7 linked regions of the Homo sapiens genome follow. The protein of the gene in region 4 purifies or fractionates together with the protein of the main gene of each other region. This does not show direct contact. Each region holds a gene or a part of one and is shown on either strand. Other genes may lie near its edges.

Evidence for each region.
Region 1: the proteins of MAP2K1 (region 4) and DDX18 purify together in Homo sapiens (affinity purification with mass spectrometry; one large-scale study listed by BioGRID and IntAct). This does not show direct contact.
Region 2: the proteins of MAP2K1 (region 4) and KRR1 purify together in Homo sapiens (affinity purification with mass spectrometry; one large-scale study listed by BioGRID and IntAct). This does not show direct contact.
Region 3: the proteins of MAP2K1 (region 4) and VARS1 purify together in Homo sapiens (affinity purification with mass spectrometry; one large-scale study listed by BioGRID and IntAct). This does not show direct contact.
Region 5: the proteins of MAP2K1 (region 4) and NDUFA10 purify together in Homo sapiens (affinity purification with mass spectrometry; one large-scale study listed by BioGRID and IntAct). This does not show direct contact.
Region 6: the proteins of MAP2K1 (region 4) and CAMSAP3 purify together in Homo sapiens (affinity purification with mass spectrometry; one large-scale study listed by BioGRID and IntAct). This does not show direct contact.
Region 7: the proteins of MAP2K1 (region 4) and MXRA7 purify together in Homo sapiens (affinity purification with mass spectrometry; one large-scale study listed by BioGRID and IntAct). This does not show direct contact.

What each region holds. Positions count from the first base shown.
Region 1 is NC_000002.12:117,816,864-117,821,190, forward strand, and holds part of DDX18 (ATP-dependent RNA helicase DDX18), read left to right. Parts: intron 1-580; coding exon 581-865; intron 866-2,785; coding exon 2,786-2,929; intron 2,930-4,297; coding exon 4,298-4,327. UniProt on the Homo sapiens protein: ATP-dependent RNA helicase that plays a role in the regulation of R-loop homeostasis in both endogenous R-loop-prone regions and at sites of DNA damage.
Region 2 is NC_000012.12:75,493,873-75,498,199, reverse strand, and holds part of KRR1 (KRR1 small subunit processome component homolog), read left to right. Parts: 3' UTR 1-2,537; coding exon of another isoform or gene 2,538-2,623; 3' UTR 2,624-4,327. Other genes in the region: GLIPR1 (glioma pathogenesis-related protein 1 precursor), read right to left, coding at 2,538-2,623. UniProt on the Homo sapiens protein: Part of the small subunit (SSU) processome, first precursor of the small eukaryotic ribosomal subunit.
Region 3 is NC_000006.12:31,788,426-31,792,752, forward strand, and holds part of VARS1 (valine--tRNA ligase), read right to left. Parts: intron 4,092-4,327; coding exon 3,967-4,091; intron 3,880-3,966; coding exon of another isoform or gene 3,877-3,879; coding exon 3,792-3,876; intron 3,547-3,791; coding exon 3,446-3,546; intron 3,313-3,445; coding exon 3,185-3,312; intron 1-3,184. UniProt on the Homo sapiens protein: Catalyzes the attachment of valine to tRNA(Val).
Region 4 is NC_000015.10:66,435,412-66,438,911, forward strand, and holds part of MAP2K1 (dual specificity mitogen-activated protein kinase kinase 1), read left to right. Parts: intron 1-1,334; coding exon 1,335-1,481; intron 1,482-3,500. UniProt on the Homo sapiens protein: Dual specificity protein kinase which acts as an essential component of the MAP kinase signal transduction pathway.
Region 5 is NC_000002.12:240,018,422-240,022,748, forward strand, and holds part of NDUFA10 (NADH dehydrogenase [ubiquinone] 1 alpha subcomplex subunit 10, mitochondrial isoform 1 precursor), read right to left. Parts: intron 3,920-4,327; coding exon 3,751-3,919; intron 2,992-3,750; coding exon 2,776-2,991; intron 219-2,775; coding exon 132-218; intron 1-131. UniProt on the Homo sapiens protein: Accessory subunit of the mitochondrial membrane respiratory chain NADH dehydrogenase (Complex I), that is believed not to be involved in catalysis. Complex I functions in the transfer of electrons from NADH to the respiratory chain.
Region 6 is NC_000019.10:7,612,338-7,616,135, reverse strand, and holds part of CAMSAP3 (calmodulin-regulated spectrin-associated protein 3), read right to left. Parts: coding exon 2,973-3,798; intron 954-2,972; coding exon 814-953; intron 719-813; coding exon 417-718; intron 1-416. UniProt on the Homo sapiens protein: Key microtubule-organizing protein that specifically binds the minus-end of non-centrosomal microtubules and regulates their dynamics and organization.
Region 7 is NC_000017.11:76,690,174-76,694,500, reverse strand, and holds part of MXRA7 (matrix-remodeling-associated protein 7), read left to right. Parts: intron 1-4,327.

The sequences.
Region 1 (4,327 bases), on a different chromosome or scaffold from region 4:
CTTATGGAGCCACTGTATATGTTGTCCTTAATTCACAGAAATGTCATTGTGCACGCATTACTGTATTTGCATATGATAAATATTGGAGCAAATAAGTGGTCTTATCAACTGAATTTTCAACTCACTGCAGTCTAGAAGAGTTGGGGTTGAATGTTTTGAAGTGGTATGAAAAATAGTACTTGTGTGAATGAGTTGTAAATGTCTTTTTCAATATATCAGTTAATCATATGTTTATCAAATACTTATGTTTATTCTGTAACTGCCATTATCTGACCTCATCTGTTTAAATATTTGACCTCATTGAAGTTTTCCTGTCCTAGACTCCTTAAAGTCAGATGTACGGTCTTTTGCAGTTAAGAAATCAATATAGCTTTCCCTTTTCCAGTATTTTTTCTTTAAGATAACTTACTTTCCCTATAAGGGAACACCATAAAACTATAAGTTGTTTTAATTACATGAAAGAGAAGAAAATCTAAATAATTTGTGTCAGGAAGCCATGGAAGTTCTCATTTGGGATTTCAGTGTTTCTAAGTAAACTTCTCCTTCTTTGTCACAGTATATGTTCTGTTTATTTAAACAGGGGCCTCAAATCTGACCCTATCGGAAACTCAAAATGGAGATGTATCTGAAGAAACAATGGGAAGTAGAAAGGTTAAAAAATCAAAACAAAAGCCCATGAATGTGGGCTTATCAGAAACTCAAAATGGAGGCATGTCTCAAGAAGCAGTGGGAAATATAAAAGTTACAAAGTCTCCCCAGAAATCCACTGTATTAACCAATGGAGAAGCAGCAATGCAGTCTTCCAATTCAGAATCAAAAAAGAAAAAGAAGAAAAAGAGAAAAATGGTGAATGATGCTGAGCCTGGTAGGTATTTATTATCTTTGAACTTCAGCCATTTAGTTTTTCACAGACGGTTATTGTTCCTCTTTCTATTACTATTGTGTGCACATGACATGAGAATTCCCTGTACTCACCAGTATGTTAGAGATTAGCCTGGTAGCTAATGGAAACATTTTATTGGCAGAAGCGGGGAGTCCATTTCAACTTTTCTCAAAATATTGAGGAATATATTTTTAATTTCACTAACCTTGAAGAAAACCTCTCTCAGAAAAGACTCTCCTTAGAATTCTAGAAATTTTCTCTTCTTTTTAAGTTACCTTTTTTCCTGCTTGATTCTTCCCATTTTCCTTCCATAAATTCCTCCCTTTGAAAGGAATATTAGTTACAAAGTATATAAAGTAGGAAACTTCTGAATAAATGGAACATTAATTTCCAAGTGCTAAGAATGGCAGGAGGAAAAGGAAGGAATGTTTTTTGAAGATGATGGAATTTCAGTAAGCTCGGATGAAAGAATGGACATTATAATTGAGATTTGTATAAGCAGAGATATCAAGGTAGGATAAGATAGGGGTCAGCAAACTATCCCTCCTTCTACCTGTTTTTGTAAATAAAGTTTTACTGGGTCATAGCAATGCCTATTTGGTTGTGTTTATGGCAACAGAGATCATATGACCTGCAAAGCCTAAACTATTTACTATCTGGCCCTTTGCGGAAAGTTTGCCAGCCCCTGAGTTGGAACATCCTATTCATGTATTTTACCTGAAATAAGGGTTTTATTTAGAAAGGGACTTTGAACTTTTCCAAACATGCATTACTGTCTTCATGATGCCTACACACAGAAGTCATTGTAATCCTGTTCTAAAATTATTGCCTTCACAATTCTTGTTTTGAGTATGCCCCAGGAAGTGGTATTATTTCTGCTCCCAAGCATTGAATCACAATGCTGGGCGTTTTAACCTTATGGGTTTTTTGTTTGTTTGTTTGTTTGTTTGTTTTATTATGAGATGGGGTCTCACTGTGTTGTCCAAGCTGGTCTTGAACTCCTGGGCTCAAGTGATCCTCCCACCTCGGCTTCCCAAAGTGCTGGGATTACAGGCAGAAGCCACCACACCCAACCACCTTATGGGTACATTTTAGGAACTATTCCAGGGAAAACAAAATAAGCCATGGAGACCAGCTGAAGATATCTGTGGCTTTTGAACATGTAGGTCCTACAAAGTTGACTCTTTCCTGGAAGGGTGGCCGTCAGGTACAGGGAGGAGACCAGTACTGAGCTACAGAGAGTCCTGGGTTGTGGTCTAAGTTCTTTTCAAACATCACTAATTGCCATATAGTTTTATATAAACACAGCATGTGGTTAATCCATTTGACCCAGAGTCGAACATTGAAAAGAGAAGTGAGAGGTAGGACTGAAAAGGTAGTTGGGGCCACATGAAAGTTGTGAATGTAGAAATGAGGGTGGGAAGAAGCCCTGCCTTTCCTCCCACCCTCATCCCTGATAGCCAAGGCACAGTCCAGTGTATGTCAGCCAGGCAAGTGGGTTGTTGCCCTTCCTTTACAGTCTATCTCTAGTAACATGAAGAGCCTTTGATAGTGATTGGCGTGGGAAGAAAAATGACTACTTATAATGAGTTTTTAAGGATTATGTTAATCAGGTATGCTTCCTTTCCCCTCAGTGGAGTATGTGAAACTTATAATTGGTATGTTTATACTGTTTAGTTGAACAAAAGCCTAAAAGGTTTTGTCACCAAGTCTGTCTGTACCCTGGGTTTTTAAATACAACCACTCATTTTTCACCAAACAGAATTCTTAACAAATTAATACAGCATATACTTAGCTTTTGAAAATATACGTCTTTATATCAGAGATCTTCTGTTTGTTGATCTCATTTGGAATTCTATTTTAAGGAAAAATTTTTTCGGATTTTGTCTTTTAAAACCAAAGATACGAAAAAAGCAAAAACTGAAAACAAAGGGAAATCTGAAGAAGAAAGTGCCGAGACTACTAAAGAAACAGAAAATAATGTGGAGAAGCCAGATAATGATGAAGATGAGAGTGAGGTGCCCAGTCTGCCCCTGGGACTGACAGGTAACGTCCAGGAAGTTTTCTAGAGGTAACTTCTTTAAAATGTGCCTCTCTTAGAGGATTATAGGTTTGAAGGTTCAGTTGTGACTTTCAGTTTACCTGAAAAAAGTAACTATCAACAAGAAACTTTTTTTATATCTTTCTGCTGCTTTTTCTCTTTATCTTCTATTTTGTGGTGTTTTAGTTCTTTTTGTTCCCTGTTTTTTTCCTTTTGTTCATTCCTGACACCAAATATTTTATATGCACACTAGCAGCTTCTAGGATTCCTTGGTTTGTCCTTTTCTGAGTCTCATTCTATGTTGTAATAGGAAAATGATTGGCCCTGTACGAGGTTAACCTCCTTTGGCCTTTGTTCCTTTATAAAGTTGAGTTTAGGCTAGAATTCACTGCTCCTAACCAGATATGTCTAGGAGTTACTTGAGTTGTTTATTTGGTTTGGGTTGGTTGGTTTGTTAAAATGTTGAGGCCCAACCCTAGACCTGCTTAATCCAAATTGCAAACGTTTTGGTAGTAGCTCTCGAGCAGGGAAATTCGCCCCCCGAGTAAGAAGAGTAACTCTTCCTGGTTTGCCCAGAACTTTAACAGTTTTAGCACTGAAAGTTCTGAATCCCAAGAATCTCCTCTGTCCCTAGCCTACTGAGAAGATTGGTCATCCTAAGCCTAGGAGACATTTTTGGTTCTCAGAGCTAGGAGCAGTCTGCTGGGATCTGGTGAGTAGAGGTCAGAAACACTGCATAATATCTTATAAGGCACAGGATAGTGTTTCACAGCAAAGAATTATTCAGCCCAGATGTCAGCAATGCCAAGGTCAAGAGTGATTGGTTTACACCCTGGGCATGTGGAGTATGGGGAACCCCCAGGTGATTTTGATGCCTTCTGCTGAACCACCACTGTATTACTTGATACGTAGGCTCAGCCTAACATTCTGTGGCTGTATCTGACTCTTCTGTGTCTTGTTGGAGTGAGATTAACAGGTTTTTTTTTTATTATTGACTTCACACTCAGTTTTTATTAATGCTCAATGTTTTCACTTTTATATCAGATTTCTTAAACATTTCATTTATCTCTGGACTCTCATTATTTTCCTTGTTTTGGTATTTTTATTTTATATAAATTCCTTGGTTATACCTCCTCTCTACCCCTTGTTTTGTTATAGTATGGTCTCTGGACTATAACTCACACAGCCGTTAACAGTGGAGAAACTTGAAAGATATAGGGTCTTTTTCTTGATATTATCACATATGAATAATTAAGGTTTAGCCTTTTCTTACTGCGGGAAGCTTTTCTAAGCAAAATAGATTTAGGCAACTGTAGCAATACTTTTTTAAAAAAAAAGATAAATTTGCTAATGATAAATTGTCTTCTGTTTAGGAGCTTTTGAGGATACTTCGTTTGCTTCTC
Region 2 (4,327 bases), on a different chromosome or scaffold from region 4:
AGCTTTATTCAAATTTTGACAATCAGAGCACTGGGAAGAAATAAATTCCACAACTGCCTTTAGCCTTCTGGATACTTTCTTTTATAAAATAGAAACCTTTTCCACACCAGTTCTGCAGCAGTCGCTATTAGATGCTCGTGGTAGAACCCATCAATCATCTGGTCCTCTGGGTACTGGTGAGCATCCCTGGTCTTCATACCTGTGAGTGGGCTTTGTGGTGAATTACTGTAAATATGCTACCCTCACTTTTCTTGGCAGTTATGTCGATGAAATCAAGAGTGTGATGTTCTAGTTATTTTTTTTTATATATATTTTTAAATGTTCAATATTCAACTATTGAAACAAATGTACATCTGTGAACTAGCTAAAATCATCTTATGTACCACTAATATGCCCAGCACATTTTGTAAAACAGTCCTGATTTGGCCTCCAAGGGTATTTATTGAACTACCAGCAGTATCTAGGAGACCACGAAGGAATACCACGAAGGAATTTATGCTCCAGTGCTTGCCATAATTTGTCTGAGAAGGAATCTGTTAAATAAAAGCTTTTATCCTCTAACCTTTACCTTCATCAGACCTTATAAAAGGTCAAATGGTGATTCTTAAGTTTTTTAGTCACAAATCTTACTTATTCAGTATTAGTGCGAAGAGTAGAATACTTTCAAGTAAGCCTAAACTTACATGAAAACAAATTACATAAATCTAGCTCTGAGAATAGGAAATTAGTGACAAGATCAATCTGTAAGATGTTGAGCACTTATCTGAAGTAAATGGGTAATGAGTTTCACATCTTATAAATACAAGTTAGCATGTGTTTTCTCAAGAGTCCAAGGGTTTTCATTATTGGACTACAGCTTTAATCTTCTAAATGTTATTCCCCAAGATTAAAGAGCATCTCAAGTTAGATCACCAAAGATCAAAAGCTAAAACCAGAAGTATTTTTGTCATTGTGGTGGTGGTAGTGTTACTAATTGCCTAGATTTTTAAAGGGAAACATTTTTTTCACTGGGTTGTTTCGTTGAAAAAAATAGAAGCAGAAACTTGCCCAAAGTCACAGTGGTCAAACTGGAAATTGCACCAAAACTTGGCATACTGGTTCTGAAATCCATAGTTTTAGCCCTTATGTATACTGGTTAATTTGGAAGGAAGAAATATATACGTTCTGAAGTGAAGAGTGAGTGAAAGGAAGAATTCAGTGAATACATTGATACCTTGATATTATCTGCATTGTGGCTACATGTTACTTTTCTTCACAAGAGTGATATAAGTGAAATAAAGAATGATTGGACTGGGAGAAAAATGGCTCAGAAAACTTTGCAAAAGTACGACTGTATGTAAAGATAAGTATTCAACATTAAATGGGAAGGAGGAGAGCAAGCAGTTTAATATATAGAATTTTATAATTTTAGGCCTGCAAGGGACCTTATAAAACATGAGCAATGGAACACTTTTTTCCAAACTAAATTTCGTGCAGTGGAACTTGGCCGACTCTGTCCTTCCTCTATTCTAAGCACCCTACTCTAGCCCGGCTGCTCTGAGTTCAGTTTGTTACAAATATGGACACGAAAGTACCACAGGCTTTGCACAGCTTAATTGAAGTTTCCCCTTCACACCATGGTAAAAAAACATACTGGGATGGAAGGGTTTGTGTCTAGAACAAGAACAAGAAATAAACTCTTGGTCACTTACTAATATTTCAAAATCACAAAGCAGAATTTTGCTTGGATGTTTAGTAAAACATCCTTGGAAATTTAACTGCTTGCAGCTTCTACACTTCTTCATTAAATGCTGTCTGGCTAATAAAAAGTGCCATGTTGCAGCTTTATTTTATTTTCATTTTTTGGAGATAGACCCTCACTGTGTCACCCAGGCTGGAGTGCAGTGGTACAATCTCTGCTCACTGCAACCTCCACCTCCTGGGCTCAAGTGATTGTCCTGCCTCAGCCTCCTGAGTAGCTGGGGTTACGGGCGTCCACCACCACACCCAGCTAGTTTTTGTATTTTTAGTAGAGGGGGTTTTTGCCATGTTGGCCAGGCTGGGCATGGTGGCATGGTAATCTCAGCTACTTGGGAGGCTGAGGCAGGAGGATCGCCTGAACCCGTGAGATGGAGGTTGCAGTGAGCTGAGATCACACCACTGCACTCTAGCATGGGTGACAGAGCAAGACTCTGTCTCAAAAAAAAAAAACAAAAAAAAAAACGAAAACAGAATTCTGTTTGTTTGGATGACCTGTTATACTTATTTTTGATCTTGCTGAAATAAGCAAATCTTAGGAATCTTAGTCTACAGTTTCTGACAGTTTTTTTTGTTGTTGTTGTTTGACCAATTAGAACTAAATAAAAAGAACGTGATTTTCACATTTAAATTTCTCTTAAATGTATTCCTAGAACAGTAAGCCATTGGTTTAATTGCTACTTGATGCCAGTTTCCTTGAAGATAGCCGTTAAGATAAAACATGGTTTCATTGTTAATTCTGTAGAAAGTTACATGTTACTATTATGTTATTCTATTGGTGTATTGTTCCTTTTACTCACCACAGAGATTGTCCAAACACTTGTCATTATTGGGGCAGGCACTGCAGGTGGCTCCTCTCTTATATGGCCAAGTTGGGTAATTCCCTCTGTAAAGCAGAAGAAGGATGTCCATTAGAAGTTTTTCGGTTTTTTAAAATTGCAATTTACTATGAATCCTTAACTAAATCCAGAAGAATAGTGGAGTGAAGTACAAAGGTCCAGAGAGTTGGTAATAGAAGTGAAGACAGGAAGGCAGAAATGGAAGGCTGCTAATATTTGCATAGTTCATTCTATGTACCTGTGTCTATGCACCTGTTTTAATCTGCATCCCATTTAATTGTGACAGCTCTGAGAGGAAGTTATTCTTGTTTTACAGATGAGACAAAAGATGTAAGAGATACCTTTAATCACAATTTATACACTTCAGAGTCAGAGGAAACCTGGATTTAACTCCAGGGCTGTGCTCCCTCTCTTTACCTACCCTCTGGCCTATATGATTACTGCCATTTAAAAAACTGTCCATCTTAGAAAAGCTATGGTGACCCACATTCAATATTCTCAGTTGGTCAGCCCTCCATAATTTTCACTGGATAGGAGCCATTTGGCTGGTGCCTTCCAAAAAAATAATAAATAATGGTATGGGGGAATTTCTAAAGTACAAATTGTTTTCACATACAAGATGTGATATGAATAATAGCTGCTAATTAGTGAGCACTACCATGTGCTTGTCTTTGTTCTAAACAACCTTGAATGAAATAATCTTCACAAAAACCCTATGAGGAAGTTACTGTTGTCTATTTATACCCATTATATAGCTAGAGGCTGAGTCACAGAGTATAAGTAATTGACCAAGGTCACAGACTAGAAAGTGAAATAATATCCAAGCATTTTATATCCCCATAAATATCCTCATAGTAGTAATGGGGAGAGGGGGCACATTTATCTCAATGAACCTGCCATTGCACTAATTTTTTTTGGAACTCTGCTTTTGGAAAAAGTTCTAAACTTTTTTGTGTAATCGTACCCTTTGGCAGTCTGGTGAGGCCTATGGGCTCTTTCTCAACATAGTTTGTTGTTAAATGCATAAAATACATAGGATTATAAAGGAAACCAATTAAATTGAAATAGTTATCAAAATGTTTAAAACAAGATTTGTGATAAAGTAATATGTGCTTCTCTATTAAGATCTACCGGGGGCTATTAGTTTCAATGCAGTGATGAACACAAACTATATTTTGAGTTCTCTGCAGCAAGTGGAATGTGGTATGAAAATATCTGATATTTACAAAGATGATACTGCTAAGTCAGAGTCACGTTTATTGCTAATATGATGGTGGAGTGTTGTCTTCATTCATAATGAAAGGAAATGTTATTTTTAATAGAGGTTAGTGAAAATAAAAATAAAACTATTTTCTAATCAAAGTTTATGGTCCTCCTCTCCCCAGCACTCTACAATTACCTCCAAAGTTGAGAACTCTCACCTTAGACACACAACTTTATAACGATACCTTATTTCCAACCCCAAATCTATGTTCTTATCTCATTTTGCTCCAAATTTTAAGTTGCTTCAGAAATTTAATTAGCCCTCTGCTTACTCTACACCATGGAAAAAAGGTAATATAGTAGAAATTCTGATAGCAATTTCAAAAGATGTCCAAAATAGACATTAATCATTGGAATGTCTTTCATTGTTAATAAGCACAGTATTAAGTGGTTTAAGTTCTAGAATGATTTTAATAAAGTCATTTATGATACTTAGTTGTGCATTCCAAACTGTAAAGGAAAAGGTAAAAAATGCTACTTAAAAATAA
Region 3 (4,327 bases), on a different chromosome or scaffold from region 4:
GGAGGCAGAGGTTGCAGTAAGCGCGCATCACTGCACTCCAGCCTGGGAAACCGAGAGAGACTCTGTCTCAAAAAAACAAAAAAAACAAAAAAAAAAACAGGCCAGGCGCGGTGGGTCACGCCTGTAATCCCAGCACTTTGGGAGGCCGAGGTGAGCAGATCATGAGGTCAAGAGATCGAGACCATCCTGGCCGACAGGGTGAAACCCTGTCTCTACTAAAAAAAATACAAAAAATTAGCCAGGCGTGGTGGCGGGCGCCTGTAGTCCCAGCTACTCAGGAGGCTGAGGCAGGAGTATGCTGTGAACCTGGGAAGCAGAGCTTGCAGTGAGCCAAGATTGCGCCACCGCACTCCAGCCTGGGCGACAGAGAGAGACTCTGTCTCAAAATAATAATAATAATAATAAAAATAAAAAAATAAAACATATAACTGTTTTCCTAGCTCTCAGTTACTTGCAAAATGCACAATCAAACATTATATTCCCAGTGCTCAGAGCAGAGGTGGCACATAGTTGGGCCCAGTAAATATTTTTTGACCACATTAATTTAGTACATAAGACACCAGAAAAAATTCTCAAAATTTAAATATAATAAACCCTGGTTTCCAAAAATGGTAAAGTTATTTTAAAATACTTTTTAAAAAGATTTGTCACCTAGAATATTACTTTGTATTTATCACTAATTAAAATATTAACAGTGAAAACAAATAGTAACAGAAAACAGGAGAAACATTTACAATTAACAGGAAAACTACCACACAATAATACAACAAAAACATTTACAATATTTAACAAAAAAATTGATACCCAGAACAGGTAAAGAATTCTCAAAAAAAAAATTAAAAAGAAAAAGAACGAAGAATCAATAGAAAAACGGGGAAAAGATAGATACAGACAATTCACATATGGGTAAACCTGACTGGCCAAAAAACATGAAAATAGGCACAACTTCAATAGCAATCAGAAAGGTACAAAGTAAAACAACAGAGGTATTTTTTTGCCCATCAGATTGGCAAAACTAATTAGGCAACCCTAATGCTCAGGCTTAGCAAGGGTGGGGAAATGAACACTCTCACAGCAATTCCTGGAGGTATCAATCAGCAAAGCCATTCTGCAGGGCAACTTGGCAGCTTCCGTTTGTACTTAATATAGGTGTGCCCCTGCCGACCTAGCAGTTTCACTTCTTGATAGCTACACCAGCGAAACCCTTCCACACATGCTTCAGCAAGCATATAGAGCAGGGGTATCCAATCTTTTGGCTTCCCTGGGCCACATGGAAGAATTGTCTTGGGCCACAGATAAAATACACTAACACTGGCTGGGAGCAGTGGCTCACGCCTGTAATCCCAGCACTTTGGGAGTCCGAGGCGGGCGGATCACGAGGTCAGGAGATCGAGACCATCCTGGCTAACATGGTGAAACCCCGTCTCTACTAAAAATACAAAAAAAAAATTAGCCGGGCGTGGTGGTGGGCACCTGTAGTCCTAGCTACTTGGGAGGCTGAGGCAGGAGAATGGCGTTAACGTGGGAGGCGGAGTTTGGAGCTTGCAGTGAGCCGAGACTGTGCCACTGCACTCCAGCCTGGGTGACAGTGCAAGACCCGTCTCAAAAAATAAATAAATAAATAAATAATAAAAATAAATTTAAAAAAATACACTAACACTAACGATAGCTGATGAGCTAAAAAAAAAAAATCGCAAAAAAATTCTTAAATGTTTAAACAAAGTTTACAAATTTGTGTTAGGCTGCATTCAAAGCCGTCCTGGGCCGCATGTGGCCCACAGGCTGCAGGTTGGACAAACTTGATATACAGGGATGTGCATTAGAGTAAGGTTTTCAACAGAAAAAAAACAAAAAACAAAAAACAGAATGAATCATTAATTAAAAAGTGACTCCAGGCCGGGAGCAGTGGCTCACGCCTGTAATCCCAGCACTTTGGGAGGCCGAGGCAGGCAGATCACCTGAGGTCAGGAGTTTGAGACCAGCCTGGCCAACATGGTGAAACCCCATCTCTACTAAAAATACAAAAATTAGCCAGGCGCGGTGGCAGGTGCCTGTAATGCCAGCTACTTGGGAGGCTGAGGCAAGAGAATCGCTTGAACCTAGGAGGTGGAGGTTGCGGTGAGCCGAGATCATGCCACTGTACTCCAGCCTGAGCAAAAAGAGTGAAACTCTGTCTCAAAAAAAAAAAAAAAAAAAAAAAAAAAAAGAATGACTTCACTATGGTACAGCCACACTATGAGATATTATGGAACAATTAAAAAGAAGGAAGTCAGTATGTGTGGTATGTGTGTAAGGACAAGGAAAGATCTCCAAGAGAAAGTATTAAGTGTAAGAAGAAAGCTAGATCATAACAAGTGTAATATGAACCCTTTATGTTAAAAAATAGAAAAGACTCACCCAAAAGGAGAACTATAAATTTCTATGGGTACGTGTATATGTAAGTAAATAGGAAAGATCTGGGAAGATACACATCAAAGTGATAACAATGGCTAAATCTTAGGAGGAAGTAGGTGTGGAGGGGGATGGTCAAGGAGATTTGAAACTTTAAATTTCTTACAAGAATATATTCATATATTTTGGTCAGTTGTGGTGGCGCATTCCTGTAATCCCAGCTACTTGGGAGGCTGAGGCAGGAGAATCACTTGAACCCAGGAGGCAGCGGTTGCCATGAGCCGAGATGGCGTCACTGCACTCCGGCCTGGGCAACAGAACAAGACTCTGTCCCCCCAAAAAAAAATATATATATTCATATGTTCCTAATTAAATTCAAAATAATGTTATTGTTACTAGAAAAAGAAGGGAGAGACTGGGTGTGGTGCCTCACACCTATAATCCCAGCACTCTGGGAGTCTGAGACAGGAGAATCACTTGAGCCAGGAGTTGGAGACCAGACTGAGCAACAAAGTGAAAACTCATCTTTACAAAAAATTAAATTAAATTAAATTAAAATTAAATAAAGAAAGAAGGGATAGAAGAGAGTCTGCAAGTGGCGGTGTTGCATGGGAGTACTGGACTAGGAGAGGAAGCTAAATGATCAGATTGGAATGACAGAGAGAAGTGTAGCACCACTGGGGGCAGAAGTGAGCACCAACCCAGAAGGAGAGAGGCTCGGGGGGCTGTCAGGGAAAAGGAGAGAGCCAGACTAGGCAGAGGGAACCAGAGGAAGGTGCAGATAGAAGCTCACCATCGAGTCAGGGAGTCCTGGATGGCGTTGGTGAGTGCATGGCCCAGGTGCAGGGAGCCTGTCACATTGGGGGGTGGGATGCACATCATGAAGACACCTCGGGGATTTGCTGCTGACACATTAGGACGCTGATGGTGGAGAAGGATGGCACATGTTTAAGGCCTCAGGTCACCTCTCCCAGCCCCTCCCAGGCAACACATCCTTCAGTCCTGCCCTTCCCCACCCCACCCACTCTGGGCCTGGGCAGCAGTGCCTACTCACCCCATACTCTGGCTTGAAGAAGCCCTGCTGCTCCCACCAAGGGTACCAGGCAGCCTCCACATACCGAGGGCTGTAGGAGTCGGGCATGGGGCCACTGACATCTGGGGGAGAGGAAGGGAGGGCTCAGTGCCGTGGCTGGGAGCACTCTGGGAAGGAGACGTGCTGGCAGAGAGGGATCGGGATCTCCGTCACTCACATCATAGGACAGGCATTTGAGGGGCCTAGAGGCAGGGCAGGGGGTCTGCAATTCCTCACCAAACAAAGTGGTGAGAGCAAGAATAGAGCAAGATAGGGTGAAAACTTAGAAGGGGCTGCTGAGGGGTGAGCCCCTTCCCACTCCTAGTACCTTTCTTTTCCCCGGGTGGGGTTGGGAGGTCATAGGTAATGACCCCAGGATCCCGTTTCTCCCTCTTCTCTGGTTTTGGTTTCTTCTGCTTGGGAGGGAGAAGACATAGGCCCAGGCATCAGCCAACCCATCACCGCACACATCAACTTTCCTTCCAGCTCCACCCTCGCCTCACCTCCCCTGGAGGTGGCTGCTGCTGTTGGATCTTCTGCTTCTGTTGGAATTTCTCTAGCTTCTCCCGTTTCTTTGCCTCTTTCTTGAGCTGAGCAGCTGTCTTTGGGAGGGCAGGAGCCTCGGGGCCTAGAGAGAGGTGCAGAAATTCAGACTCAGCCAGCTGGGGACCCTCTTGGACGGCCATACTAGGTTTCAGATGGGGTATTTTAGATGCCCGAGGTCTTGCCCATGCTGACCTCCCCCCTCTCCCTCCTCTCCCGCAGGACCCTGCCCCAGTGATTCTGCCATTTCTAGGAAAAAAAGAAAGTGAGTTGCATGGAAGGCCCCAGGGAAGCCCCTATCCTCCAACTCCTCGCCCTTCC
Region 4 (3,500 bases):
ATCTCCTGGGTTCAAACGATTCTCCTGCCTCAGCCTCCTGAGTAGCTGGGATTACAGGCATGCGCCACCATGCATGGCTAATTTTTTTGTATTTTTAGTAGAGACAGGGTTTCTCCATGTTGGTCAAGCTGATCTCGAACTCCTGACCTCAGGTGATACGCCCGCCTCAGCCCCACAAAGTGCTGGGATTACAGGTGTGAGCCACTGTGCCCAGCCGTGCTGTTTGAATTTTGAATGCTTGTTATCTATATTAGATTATGGATAAACACACTAATGACTGTGTTAGTGTATTAATCCCCATCCCATCTGGAAAATAATAAGTGACTCTTTTTTAGCCTTCTGTGTGCTGTGGAAGGAATGCCAGGATACCTGTTTATTACTTATCAAGTGCTGGAGAAGCTGCTTTCATTCACCCAGCCCCAGCGATGCACAAAACAAGGATTTCAAGTTGTTTCCCTCTTGTGCTCCAGCCCTGCCAGTGAATCCCCTTTATCTTCCTGCATTATAGCATCTGAACTCCTATCATAGCATGTACTTGTAGAGCTGGACTTCCCTTTCCTATCTACCCTTGGTCCTCTTTTGGAATACAGCCCCTTGCTCCAGAGAGGTTGGGCTCTTCAATGTTTTTTTGCACATGGTGTTCACTCCTGTGCCCATAATTTTTTTGTGTGCTGTTGCTTCTGTCTTTTCAAACAGTGCCCATTTTCTAGGTCCACCTCTTGTCTAGCTTTTACCAGGTGCCCCAGCCCACACTGGTAACCACTGCATCCATGTTCTCTGACACTCGCTGTCTGTGGGATTTTTTTAGAAGTTCAACCTTACTACGTAACTATTTAATGTGACTGTCACTTGTCTCCCCAGCTGGAACAAGGGAAAATGTTAGGATGACATAAGGTAGCACCTTAGACTTTGGCTTAGTCTCAACCACATCAGGCTCCTGAGCTCAAGGAAGAATCTTTTGGGCAGCCTAGGTTAGCATACCTGAGTTCCTCATACCCTTCTACTTTCACAACTCTTGAGTGTGAACCAAGTCCTCAAGGTCAATTTCTTTTCATATCTGAGCTCCAAAGCCTCTCTTGGAGTAAGCCCTCCCTTAACTTTGTTCCTGTCTAGGCTCCCAGGAGCCGAGGCACAGCTGGAACAGCCTCCAGTGCCAATGCCTGCCTTAGTACAATGACACTCATTTCTTGGTTGAGCAGAAACTTGTTTGTAACAACTTAACCTGTTTCTCCTCCCTCTACCTTAAAGAGCTTAAACATTTAACAAGACTATATCTTTCATCCCTTCCTCCCTCTTTCTTTCATAAAACCTCTCTTTCTTCCACCTTTCTCCAGCTAATTCATCTGGAGATCAAACCCGCAATCCGGAACCAGATCATAAGGGAGCTGCAGGTTCTGCATGAGTGCAACTCTCCGTACATCGTGGGCTTCTATGGTGCGTTCTACAGCGATGGCGAGATCAGTATCTGCATGGAGCACATGGTATGTGACACCCTCTCAGCCTCTGGAGCAATGGCCTTAAGAGTTGGGTGGCTCTGGCCTAATCTTTGGTCTGGGAGGTGACCAGCTACCTCCCTGCTGCTCCTGGGATCCACATCACTATCTGGGGCATCTGGGAAGTCTAACTGTAGAGCTTGGGATATTCACAAGATGGCAGGCCTCCTTTCTAGGTCCTTGCCTCTCTTGAAGGAAGTGGGCAGTATTCCTGGTGGGTGTACCTAGAGCACCTCTCATAGTTTTTTTGATTCTGATTACCCTAAGATGTGATGTAAGTAAAATCTGGTAAATACAGTTTAAATCCATTTCTTGTGTACAATGCTGTATGCTAGGTGCAAGGCTCTGGAGTTAAAAAGATGACATAATCTACTGTAAGGGCAGCCTGAAGGGTTTCTCTGGGTTTCTGTATGATGCACGTTAGTGGAAGGAGAGGGCAATGGAGAGAGAGGGCATTCATGGGCTAATTAATCATATGCATGTTAGCTGCCAATCATTTTACCACTATGTTCTTGGAGTCCCTCCTTTTCTTCAGATATAAGTCTTCCAACACACTGTGCAACTTAGGGAATTCTGCAAGTATTAGTCTTTGCTTTATTCTCCCTGGGCTGATGGCTTAGAGATGAGGGCTGACGTGAGTCTGCACACTTGGTGGCTGTTGTGCTTTCAGTCCAGTATTGTGTCTCTCAGCTCCTACCCCATTTTATTCCTGATACTTGAGACCTGCCCTGACCTTTAGAATAGGGATCCTGGTGTGCAGCCTTAATGAACTTTAGAAGAACCCTCCTGGGAGGATTCTCTACTTGTGCCTCCATTATTTTGAACCTCTCTTCATTGTAATGATCACGAAGTGCTGCATCCACTGTTATAGGCATCTGCTGACATTTGTGGGTGCCATATGGAACCTAAATCCTAAAAACGTCTTCTGCACATCTAAAGGTTAGAGAAAGTGCTTGTTCCTTCTTTCCTCAATGAGAGCAGAGCATTCTCTGTGGGAAGCATATGAACATTTCTGGCTTGGTCCTAGTGCTTGGCCTGGGGTGCTGATTATTTTCTGCTTGGGTCTTGGCTTCCCCTCAGGGAGCTGTTTCTTATCCCTTGGGTCTCTTGTGTTCTTTTTTTTTTTTTTTTAATTTATTTTTATTTTTTAGGGTGATGAAGGGTTTTTTTCCCCTTTCTTTTTTTTTCTTTTTGTTTTTTTAGACAGAGTCTCGCCCTGTCACCCAGGCTGGAGTGCAGTGGCGCGATGTCGGCTCACTGCAACCTCCACCTCCCAGGTTCAAGTGATTCCCCTGCCTCAGCTTCCAGAGTAGCTGGGATTACAGGTGCGCACCACCACGCCCCGCTAATTTTTTTCTATCATTACTAGAGATGGGGTTTCACCATGTTGGCCAGGCTGGTCTCGAACTCCTGACCTCATGATCTGCCCGCCTCGGCCTCCCAAAGTGCTGGGATTACAGGCATGAGCCACCGTGCCCAACCAATCTTTTTATTTTTCTTACATTGACCTCTTTTGAGATACTAGGAGGCTTCTTCATTTACATTGACCTTTTTTGAGATGCTAGGTGGCATCCTTATTCTGGAATTCTTTATTCACTTTGAACTTACAGATGTTGATCACATCTCTTGTGCCCTTGCCATGTCCTCCCCTTCCTTCAAGCCTTCCTCCTCCTTCAGGAGAAAATGACACTGGAAATGACTGGAGTTGGTTTCCCATTCTCTTAGCCCATTTCCAGTGACTGCAGGTCAGTTTTTCCCCCCATGGATTTGGCTCTCTGGAAATAGTGAGATGTTCCTGCACAAGTCTCTGGAGTTATCGTGGAGAGCATGAGACTGGGAGGGGAAAATGTTTCAAGGGCCAAGCACAGTGTCTGGCACCTGTTAGGTGGTATGTGTTGAGTGACTGAATGAGAGTGGCCAGGATGGGGAAGACCTGGTCAGGCTTGGGACTCGATGGGGGAGGGTTAGGCCTTGGAGCCTGCCATAGGACCTTTTGGCCCTGGGTGT
Region 5 (4,327 bases), on a different chromosome or scaffold from region 4:
CCGATTAAGTAATGGCATTTATTCATCTATCTAACAGACATTCATAAACACAGTAAGTGCAAGGTGAGTCTATCACAGCCCTTGCAAAGTCGCACCACACACCCAGAAGTGGGTCTGCAATGCTGACTCACACTGCTTTCGGATGAATCCCTGGTTGTACATCGCCTCCAGGAACACAAAGTCACTGAAGATGGAGCGCTCCAACACAACACCTTGTCCTGTTTAAACATAGGCAAACAGAAATTGAAAATCAGACAGATAGCAAAGCACTGTCAACTGATCACTGCATTCCAGAGAAAAGAAAATAACAATCATTTACAATTCCATTTCCACACCAAAATACTGAAAAGAACATAGACATATTTGTAAGTGGGAAACCATTTTCAAAAACTGAAGTATCTTTTCAGTTTTGAGCAATATAACATCGTTTCATTAAGTCAGCTATAACAGAAAGCATCCGGTTAATACAAAAAGTGCTTGTTTTTAAATAACGTATTCCACCCCTACAGTGCCCACCCCCATCCTGCTCCTGCCCCCACCATTCCAGTCAGATCTACTGATGTTGGGCTACTTCTCAACCTCACCTCTGTCCACTCCCAGCCTCACTGGCTGTGTTACTATCACAGCAGCCCCGACGGACACTTGTGCAGCTCAGAGCACTAGTCCCCAGGGTCCCCAGCCAGCCTCCTTGCAGTCAGCCCTGCTGTGTCTGGGCAGAGGCCTCCCCTAATCTTCCTACCCAGCCTCTCCCCACAGCCTCCTTCCTCAGAGCAGCCACCACTCACTTGGGGCAAGACATTCCTGTTTCCACATCGAGTCTTCATCCCTCTACTAAAACACAGGCTTCCCTCCCTGTGGCGCCCTTAGCTCCCAGAATGGGTCTGGCACACAGCAGACATGCACTAAATATTTAATGAATACGTTAACCCAGTTCCAATTTGCCCCAAGAATACTGAGATGGGAGCAAGCTGCACTTTTTTTTTCTAAATGGGAAATAGGTTACTATAGCACCAAAAAAAGCAAGGCTTTATTTAACAAGTAAAATGTTTCTTTTTCATTTTAAGAAATGAGTAGTCAGAAGACAGGGTTGAAGAATGCTTTAAAAAGAACGTGGAGGCCGGGCGCGGTGGCTCACGCCTGTAATCCCAGCACTTTGGGAGGCCGAGGCGGGCGGATCACGAGGTCAGGAGATCGAGACCATCCCGGCTAAAACGGTGAAACCCCGTCTCTACTAAAAATACAAAAAAATTAGCCGGGCGTAGTGGCGGGCGCCTGTAGTCCCAGCTACTTGGGAGGCTGAGGCAGGAGAATGGCATGAACCCGGGAGGCGGAGCTTGCAGTGAGCCGAGATCCCGCCACTGCACTCCAGCCTGGGCGACAGAGCGAGACTCCGTCTCAAAAAAAAAAAAAAAAAAAAAAAAAAAAAAAGAACGTGGAGTAAGCCTGGATGTCAGTGTGAAGTCCACGCTACGACATCAGCTCCTGGATTGGCTCCTGGTAAAGAACCTCAAACCAGAAACAGCAGACCACATTGTTTTCTTAGGAGTAACACTAACCAAGATCAGGGTTTACGTTCATATAAGAAAAAAAGAAGCACTAATAAAATGTTTTCAACTTTTTCAAAGCAAGACAATAACTCCACCACCGTACAACTGTGTAGATACGTGTCATGGACACACACTGCATCCGTGGAGACCTGAAGGAGCATAGGCAGCGGCTCCTAGCTCAGCTCTGAGAAGAAGCCTGTGAGCCGGCCACTCCCAGTGAAAACCACATTCTTGTTCTCACGGCTCAGACCCCATGAAGCCAACCCTAGTGGCGGCTGAGCTTGTGCGTGAGAAGCTCATCAGGGGCACTGCCAATCAACGAAAGCAGCAAGCACTGCAATATAAAACAGACACGAAGGCCCTAAGAGTCCACCCATCTCCCTCTCTCCGCACACAGATGTGCCATTTGCTGCTACCTGTGAACTGAGGACCGCCGTGGCATGGTAGCTTTGACCAAAAATTGGCAGTGCATCTGCGGTCCAACTCTCAGGATGTCTAGCATGCACTGCTGTTTCCCAGAATGATTACAGTAACCCGTCGCTGGACCCTAACCTCATTCTGCACACAAGTAGTCCATGTTCATGCCCTTTCATCCACCTTCCCTTCCTCTCCTAACTATACTTTCTGATCCCTGTTTCCGTCTCCCAGGCTCCCCAGTACACAGCTCTTCCTTTCTGCTTTGGATACCTTCAAGGGAAGCATCCTCCCCTACTGCACTGGCCTATGGGACCCTGTGTGTTCTGCCTCCCCCCGTCATCTTATCAAGATTCACGTCTGCCTCGTGGCTTTATGGTGATTCCGGCCTATCTCTGGGCCCTCCGGGACAACCCTATGTTGTTGGCATCCACATCTCTGTCTGCATGGCACATGCACAGTCTTCATAAGTGTGATCCCGTTTCCTCCTGGACACTTCTGTGCTCTCTTTACCCCTTTGTTTTGACACATTTCATATATAAATGAATATGTAAGTATAGAAGCTTAAAGTAGTGCCTTGAGAATTCTATACAATCCATAAATCTCACTCCAGTATCCATAGTGAAACAGCATTAAATTAATTCTGAAGCAAAAATAACACAATCTCAAGAAATTCATGATCTTGTTGGAAAGACAGAACTCACCTCATCAAACACCCTTAAAGGAAAGCTCGACTCAGTGGCAATTTAACGTGGTTGAATTCTAGAATAGTGTTCAAGTACAGAACAGATCTAACTGCCCAGAAATACTGCACCTGTGGTCAGCAAGTGCTCCAAGGCATCTGAGTACTGCAGCAGGCGACTGCTGTACAACCAGGACTGCAGGCGGTAACTGTTGCCATCATTGCTTCTCGGATCATCGTAAAATTTCTCCAAACTACAGTTGCCATTATAGTCGGTGGCGAGGGGCTTCCCATCTCCTGTGGTACTGTCTGGATAATGAATCCCCGCTTCAGGAAAGTGCTTGAAGCCTGAAAAGAGAAACAGTCGGATGCAGTCTGATGCACATCACTCACTCCCCGCAGGGAGCAGTGGGGACTAGCCAAAACACACAGCCCGCCCGAATCTCACCGCCAGGGATGGAGCCAATGACCTAGAGAAAGTCACCTACATGCCTGGGTTTCATCACGTATGAAGGGAACACACAACATATACAAGCAAGCATGTGAGCGAAAGAGCTTGCACAGTGCCCTTATCCAGGTTCCTCCTGAAAGGACTGCTCCCTGTAACCACAGGAGCCCCCTCTAGCGGGCAGCTGCTGTCATGCAGGTGCTACAGAAAGGTACAATGGACACTCAGCTGCACCAGGAGTCAGGAAGGGGCTCTAACCTTGGCTTTGGGACCCAGCTATGTGGCATCTGCTCACTCAGGAGTACACCCATCTGTGAGTGAGTACCATCCTCGGCTCTATTTCAGAGGCTGTCACAAAGTTCAAACACGACAGTTTATGTGGAAGTGCCCTGCTTACACTGCCCACATAAAATTCCAATTCAAATTGACAACCAGCATGGATTTTCACAAATTTTCCAAACATAAAAGATTAAAAACAGCTTTTTCTTGTTTCGTTTTATAAAACAGCTTTTTCAATAAACAAAAATGTGAAATACCCACCTTAGGCCCAATTATTAAATATTTAATATTATTTAATATTAATATTGAAGAAAAACCAGTGAAATAAGCAACCATATATCTGAGAAAAAGGTATCATTCTGTGTAACATAAAATCATACCTAGTTTCTCTGCTATTTCTTTTGCAAGTTTGCCTTTTCCAGTACATATATTGCCATCTACAGTTATCACTCTGCTGCGTTCTGTCAGTCTTTTGCTTGCTTTATCCCCAAGTAGGAAATGCCACATTCCATAGCGCAGTTTGCACTGCACACTGCTATGAATTCCTCTCTGAAAAACACAAAATCACACAGCAGCACATTGTGACCACTCTGGTTCCTGTAGGCATTAGTAACTATTAGGTAAAAATACCAAGAAACCTCTTAGTGATAAAAATGCCAACATCTACATCTTTATTGCCTATTAATTTGTTTAATTATCTGTCTATCCCCCACCACTCTGTCCATGTAAGTTTCGTTAAAGGCAGATATACTGTCTGTTTGTTCACTGCTAAATCCTCAGGCCCTGGAACAATGCCTGAAATTTTTATTAAATATGTTTACTATGTTCAATAAAAATTGGAGGGAGGGAGGGAGGGGTGGATGGATGGATGGATGGACGGACAGACGGGAGGAAGAAAGACAGGGATGGAGGGAAGCTCAGGAGTGAAGGGAAGGGAATAAAAAACATTTCTCTAAT
Region 6 (3,798 bases), on a different chromosome or scaffold from region 4:
GGCTCACCGCAACCTCCACCTCCCAGGCTCAAGCGATTCTCCTGCCTCAGTCTCCCAAGTAGCTGGGACTACAGGCATGCCATATGCCCGGCTAATTTTTGTATTTTTAATAGAGATGGGCTTTCACCATGTTGGCCAGGCTGGTCTCAAACTCCTGACCTCAGGTGATCCGCCCGCCTCAGCCTCCCAAAGTGCTGGGATTACAGGCGTGAGCCACCGCGCCCGGCCCCCTATGGAAGTCTTTACCCAAGAGACAGTGTCCAACCCCACCTGAGGCCCCCTGTCACCCCACATACCCGCCCCCTCCCGGCACCCCTGCTTACATCTCCCTCCCCCTCCCCCCTTACCCATGGGGGCCTCACCCAGTGAGCCCCGGAAAGGGCACTGGGCAGGCCCCGTCCCCCAAGGGTCCTCACCCAGCAGGCCGCGGGCTGGGCTTCGTGCCAGGGCTGAGTCGTCACAGCAACCCGAGCGAGGCCGGGTGGCCCTCCGCCCGCCCCGACCTGGACCCCCGGACCCCGCAGCCCGGGGCCGCAGCACCTTATCGAGGTCGTCCATCAGCTTCAGCTGGGCCCGGCGCTCGTACTCCTGCCGCGTGAAGTCCCCCTTCCGGGGGCCCACCTCCTCCTCGGCTGGAGCCCGGGCAGCAGGGGCTGGAGTCGCCATCGGGACTGCGGACACAAGCGGGGCTGGGCCCGGGGCCTCCTCTTGGGCCAGCCTGCAGATCACAGGGAATCGGCATCAGAACCGCTCACGGGGTCCGCGGTGGCAGACAGGCCAAGGAGCGGGCGTCCCGGGCAGGCCCGGCCTCACCTCGCGGCCTCCTCCCTCCGCTGTTCCTTCTCCACCTCCTGCCACTGCTTGCGCCGCCGCGCCTCCTCTGCTCGCCGCTGCTGCCGCTCCAGCAGGCTGGCCCGCTTTTGGGCCATCTCGTCCTCAGGCTTGTCTTCATCCTGGGGACAGACGCCGAGTCCAGCCAGCCACCCCCTCCCCCAACATGGCTGGAGGCCCATCTTCCCTCCACCCAGCCTGCCCGCCACCCACCTGTGCTTTTGTTTTCATCATTGTTCTAAATGCACTTAGTTGGTGCCTACTGTATGCACAGCCCCACACTAAGTACTGGGACACAACAGGGATGGGATACACTGGGTGCCGCTCACACACACACTGCTTAACCCAACGGGGAAGACAAAAGCAGCAGACAGCAGTGAGTGCCAGCAAAAGCTCGTGTTGGGCACAGACACTCTACACTGCGGGAGGACCCCGGCCTGGCCTGGAGACACCCAGGAAGGCTTCCCAGAGGAAGTACCCTGTAGAATGATCAGGATTTAACTAGGTGGGCGTACAGAGCAGAGCGTTCCAGGCAGAGGGGACAGCTAGTGCCGAGGCCCTGAGGCTGGAGCAAACCTACTGGGGGGCACGGAAGTACAAGGGGGCCAGTGTGGCTGGGACACAGAGCTGAGGACAGTGGCGCAGGACTAAGTCAGAAGTGAGTACAGGCCAGACGCGGTGGCTCACACCTGTAATCCCAGCAGTTTGGGAGGCCAAGGCAGGTGGATCACTTGAGGTCAGGGGTTCGAGACCAGCCTGGAGAAACCCTGTCTCTACTAAAAATGCAAAAATCAGCTGGGCGTGGTGGCATGCTCTTGTAGTCCCAGCTACTCAGGAGGGTGAGACAAGAGAATCACTTAAACCCAGGAGGTGGAGGTTGCAGTGAACCGAGATCATGCCACTGCACTCCAGCCTGGGCCACAGAGCGAGACTCTGTCTCAAAAAACAAAAAACAAAAGAAAACAAAACAAAAAAAAAAAATGAAAAGGAAGTCCTCCCCAGGGCTTTGGGCTGTGCTCACTTTTTTTTTTTTTTTTTTTTTTTTGAGATGGAGTCTCGCTCTGTTGCCCAGGCTGGAGTGCAGTGGCACGATCTAGGCCCACTGCAAGCTCCACCTCCTGGGTTCACGCCATTCTCCTGCCTCAGCCTCCTGAGTAGCTGGGACTACATGCGCCCGCCACCACGCCAGCTAATTTTTTGTATTTTTAGTAGAGACGGAGTTTCACCATGTTAGCCAGGATGGTCTCGATCTCCTGACCTCATGATCCGCCTGCCTTGGCCTCCCAAAGTGCTGGGATTACAGGCATGAGCCACTGCGCCCGGCCACCCTGGGGAGGACTTTCATTCTAAAAGCAAGGGTAAGGGGAGCAGTCAAAATCCCCGACCACTCAGTGCAAAATGGCCCGGGATGGAGGCAGGCAGCAGAGGCCAGTCAGGTAACCCTAGGTGTCCCCGGCTGGGAAAGCCATGGGAATGGAGAGACAGTGGACACAGGGCAGGGCCAGGAAAGGGGTGGTAGGAGCGTGCTGGGGGCGAGGGGGTGAAGGAGAGGATGAGCAAGGAGGTGCGCTGAAGATCCTGGTCCTGTCCGTCTATCTGTCCATCACCCACCCACCCATGCAACCAGCCATTCATCCATCTGTCTATCCATGACTCCTCCCTGTTTCTCCACCCCTCCCCACATCTATCTATCCCCCTTGTCCGGCCACCCATACCTTGTTTGGGAGGGACATGACTGGGTCAGCCCCCACTGGAAACCCCTCACCCCCAAACATACCCGAGGGCCTCACTCATTAAGCCACAGGGGGAGGACCTCTCACCCCACTGCACCCCCACAGCCCCTTGTGGAAGTCCTTACCCAACAGACAGGGTCAAATCCCATCTGAGGCCCCTGTCACCCCACATACCTGCCCCCCACCGTGCAAATGTCCCTTTCCCCCCTCTCCCACCCATGGAGGCCTTACCCAGCCACTCACACCTGTTCTGTCCATTCATACCTGGCTCCCCATCTATCCCCCACCCGCCCACCCATCCTTCAGTAAAGCCCTATTCATCCAATAGTGGGTTTGTCCACCTCCCCCCGCCCCCACCCGCCCCCGCCCCAGGCCCAGGACCCTCCAGCCACCTGCTCGGGGACTCACCTTGTAGAAGAACCCCAGCCCCACCCGGGGCTCCCCCTCCGAAGACGCCTCCTCCTCCAAGGAATCCTCAGCACCAGCGGGGCTCCCGTCTCCCTCGTCCTCGGCGGCGGGATCTGCCAGGCTGCCCAGCGGGATCTCGATGAGGCCCGGCCGGGCGGCTGGCTCCTCGGGGGGCGTCTCCTCCGCCAGGAGGATGGAAGAGCGCGTCTGCACGGGCACCTGGCTCGGCGAGAACTTGCGCAGGTGGGGGAGGCTGTCTACGTCGTGGGGTGGCGTAAGCACCCTGGTCAAGGGTGCCAGCCGCAGCTCCGCTGGCCGCGTGTGTTTCGGGCTGCGGGGTGACTGGCTGGGCCCGGGCCCAGGGCTGCGCCGGGTGGCCGGGACTCGCCGGGCGGGGCTGGGGGATGCAGCTTTGGGCCCCGTCGTGGGGCCAGGGATGACCCACGCAGCAGGTGGTGGGGCGGATCCGGGGGCCTCGGGCGGGGCCAGGAGCCGCTGCTGCTGGTCCGTGAGCCTCTGCATGTCCCGCTGCAGCGAGCTCAAGGCGGCACTCAGCTTGCTGACCGCTCGATTGTATTCCCCCAGCCCCTCGTGGGGCACCGGGCCCAGGTCTGGCGAGAAGGTCACTGCCTTGGGCCGTGAGGTTGGCTCACCCTGGCCCTCGCCTGCGGGCCGCTCCCCACCAGGGACTGGACCGGAATCGGCCTCCTCCGCCTCTGCTTCCGCCTCCCCAGAGGCTTCCCGCGGCTGCACCTGCAGGAAGGCGCTTTTGCCCAGCCGCTGGCGGTGCTTGGCGAATATGGCCTCAATCCGTCGCTTCTGAGCC
Region 7 (4,327 bases), on a different chromosome or scaffold from region 4:
GAAGCCCAGGTGTGAGGCCCTGGGATGCCTCTATGAGGTGCAGTTTGATAACCACTCAAAAAAACATTCCATGGCTATCCAACCCTTGACTTCAGCAGAGCTGAGATTTGATGCAGGCAAATTTGAGATGTTCTTGGCCTGCAAAGTCTGAGTGTGGTGAGTGGTGGACAGGAGAGGTGTCAGTGGATGGCGGACACCGTGGTCCAGGGGCTGTGGGAGTTGGAATGGAGCGGTTCTCAGGCAGGGAAAGGCAGGGTGGAATGGCCTCAGGACAAGCACATGGTAGGGGAGGGGGCTCTCCAACGAGTCTCTCCACCCGGGCCCACTCTAGGCAGCTCACTGCTCTGGTCCCAGAGGGTCCTTGTCCCCCAAGCAGAAATTGGGCTCCTGGGCCTATGCCCCCGCCCATCCAGATAAGTAGATGGAAGGGGGAGGGTTTGACCGCCCCAACTGGGGCCACGGGATTCAAGGGACAACTTCCAAAAGAACAGGGGATTTCTGCACAGACAACAAAATAAATGGCCAATTGAGCAGTGTTTTCAAGCTTTTTTTAATTAGGTGTCACAATAAGAAAGAAATTTTAAATTACATCCTGTATATAAAGTCACACAGCTACACCAGAAGTTTTTTGTTGTGTTGTTGTTTTGTTTTCTTTTGTTTGAGACAGGCTTTCACTCTTTCACCTAGGCTGGAGTGTAGTGGTGTGATCTCGGCTCACTGCAGCCTTGACCTCCTGGGCTCAAGTGATCCTCCCACCTCAGCCTCAGCTGGGACTACAGGCACATCCCACCATGCCCAGCTAATTTTTGTAATTTTTTTGTAGAAATGAGGTTTGACATGTTGCCCAGGGCGGTCTCAAACTCCTGGGCTCAAGCAGTCCACTTGCCTCAGCCTCCCAAAGTGCTGGGATTACAGGCGTGAGCCACCTCACCTGGCCCCAGAAGTTTTATAAACCAGTATCTAACTCTACCACACACAAAACACTGTTTGTCTTTAATTTCTTTTTCTTTTTTTTTTTTTTTTTTGAGACAGATCTCAAAAAAAAATCCAGTCTGTTGCCCAGGCTGGATTGCAGTGGCGTGATCTCAGCTCATTGCAACTTCCGCCTCCCAGGGTCCAACGATTCTCCTGCCTCAGCCTCCCAAGTAGCTGAAGCAGTCGTGCACCACCACACCCAACTAATTTTTGTATTTTTAGTAGAGACGGGATTTCCCCATGTTGGCCAGACTGGTCTCGAACTAATGACCTCGTGATCCATCCGCCTCGGCCTCCCAAAGTGCTGGGATTACAGGCATGAGCCACCGCGCCCAGCCTTGTCTTTTATTTCATTCTGGGATACAGGGGTGTCCCCAGAGTCTTAGTGCAGTTTTAATAAATAACTTCAGATGTTTAAATGTACAAACCTACAAAACATCAGTTGAATATTTACTTATTTAAATTTCTTTTCCACTTAGTTTCCTGACAGTCAAGTGCTAGATTTTTTCATTTTAATTCTCCGCATGTGCTAGTGTCTGGAGGGACAGGCAGGCAAAGGACCCCTTTCCTGGGCTGAATTGACCTCCCTTGAGGTCACGTGTGCACAAAATCCAGTTCTTTGGAACCTGGTGAAGCTGGAATCACCAGTGCAATCTTTTCCCGTCACTGACCAACAGTCGATAAAAGGTTTTTCGAAGTTTGAACAACTAGAGCCATGTATAGCACTAGAGGGGGTACTGTAAGAATCTGAGTGAGAGATATCAAGGTATTTTAAATGTAAATAACCTTTCAAATGTCATTTTTTGGTACATTTGTAGTATCTATACTTCTGAAGTTATTAAAGCCTCAAACTTCACCAAGACTTTGGTCGCCCATTTTTTTTTTTTTTTAACAATACTAGTAAGGCCTTCTCATTTGCTTTCCTGACCCATCAATGGGTCATGACCACAGCTTTTTAAAAATCAGACTTCCAGGCCGGGCGCGGTGGCCCACACCTGTAATCCCAGCAGTTTGGGAGGCCGAGACGGGCGGATCACCTGAGGTCGGGAGTTCGAGACCAGCCTGACCAACATGGAGAAACCCCATCTCTACTAAAAATACAAAATTAGCCAGGTGTGGTGGCACATGCCCATAGTCCCAGCTACTCGGGAGGCTGAGGCAGGAGAGTCGCTTGAACCTGGGAGGTGGAGGCTGCAGTGAGGCAAGATCGTACCATTGCACTCCAACCTGGGCAACAAGAGTGAAACTGTCTCAAAAAAAAAAAAAGAAAAAATCAGACTTCCAAAGTCAAGTACAATTTTTTTTTTCTTTTGGTGACAGGGTCTTACTCTTGCCCAGGCTGGAATGCAGTGGCACCCCCATGGCTTACTACAGCCTCAACCTCTTGGGCTCAAGCGACGCACCTGCCTCGGCCTCCCAATGTGCTGTGATTACAGGTGTGAGCCACTGTGCCTGGCCCAGAATCTAAATGTGTACCAGCCTCTCTGTGCTCAGGAGGGCTTGGGCACGTCAGCTGATACTGGGTCCTTTGGGGATACGGATCTGCCCTGGCTCATGGACTCCTCGCCCTGGAGTGCAATTATTTGTTTGTCTTTCCTACTGGACCACGAGCTCCGTAAGGCAGGGACTGTGCTCATTGTTGCTGTTGTTTTTCATTTAATCTTTGTGTCCTTTGCACATAATAGGAGAACTGGCCTCCTGTCTATTCTTGATATTGGGCTTAGTTCCGGGGCCGTGCCCTGAATAGGTCAGTGACTGTTTGCCTGTCATTAAAGAGAGACATCAACCATGAGAAAAACCAACTGTTTTTCTGTCCATGCACACAACACTCCACAGAACCCTTCACTTCTGATACCAAATATGCAGCCAGCCCCACCCCTGCAACCAACACCTTCTCCAGCCACCCAGACACCAAGTGGGTGTCCTCCCGTTCAACTCTGACATTAACTGCCTGGAATCAGTGCAGACCCCACAGGTTAGGGCCCAGTCCCACAGACTGCCCCCTACTTCAGGGGCCAATCACAAGTATCAGGTCCCCTCGTTCCCCACACTTTGGTCCTACTTGCCTACAAATCAAGGGTTCCATGAACCCCTCCTCAAGTTGAGTAATTTGCTACAGCGTCTTACGGAGCTCAGGGAAGCACTTATGTTAACTGGTTTATTAGAAAGGAAGTGATAAAGGCTACAGATGAACAGCCAGATGGAGGTACCTAAGTAGAGTAAGGTCCAGTAGGGTCCTGAATGCAGGAGCTTCCGTCCCCATGGAGTTGGGGTACGCTACCCCCTGCGCACGGGAATGCATTCAGCAGCCTGGAAGCTCTCCAAACCCTATCGGGATGTTGACGGAGGCCTCATCACATAGGCGTCATCGATTCTTAACTCAATCTCCAGCTCCTCTCCAGTCTCTGGAGGAAGCTGGGGGGTGGTGGGGCTGAAAGTTCCAAGCTCCTCATTGCAGCTTGATCTCTCTGGTGATCAGCCCACCCAGGAGTTACCTCATTAGAACAAAAGACACTCCTGTCACCCGGGAAATTCCAACGGACTTAGGAGCTCTGTGCCAGGGACTGGGATCAAAACCAAATGTTAGAACAAAACATGCTGCTAGCACCCCTGTAACTTAGGAAATTCAAGGGACTTAGGAGCTCAGTGTCAGGGCTGGGCATGGTGGCATGCACCTGTGATCCCAGCTATTCCAGAGGCTGAGGCAGGAGGATCGCTTGAGCCCTGGAGGTCAAGACTGCAGTGAGCCGTGATTGCACCACTGCACTCCAGTCTGGGCAACAGAGCAAGATCCTGTCTCAAAAAACAAACAAAATAAAAACTGTGTCAAGAACTGGGGGCCGAAACCAAATATATATATATTTAGGATGTTACATTCTTTCTACTTTTTTTTTTCCAAGTGATCCTTCTGCCTCAGCCTTCTAAGTAGGTGGGATCACAGGTGCGTGCCACCATGCACAGCTAATTTTTAAATTTTCAGTAGAGGCGAGGTGTGCACTATGTTGCCAGGCTGGTCTTGAACTTCTGGGCTCAAGCAGCCCTCCCACCTCAGCCTCCCAAAGTGCTGAGATTGCAGGCATGAGCCACCACACCTGGCCTCTTACTTTTTTTTTCTTTTTTAGAATATATAAGAAAATAAATAAAGAAAAAATGGGGTCTTTGGATCTGACTGTCCAAAGACACCATTAGCATTTAAAAAATATATTTAGTCATTCATGCATATTAATGGAAAGTCCAAATTATACTGAACTCTATAAGACGGAAAGGAAAAGCTGCCCCCCAAGCTCCTTTCCCAAGAGGTAGCCACTGCTGACAGTTTCTCGTGGGCCCTTCCAAAAAACAAACCTTTTCT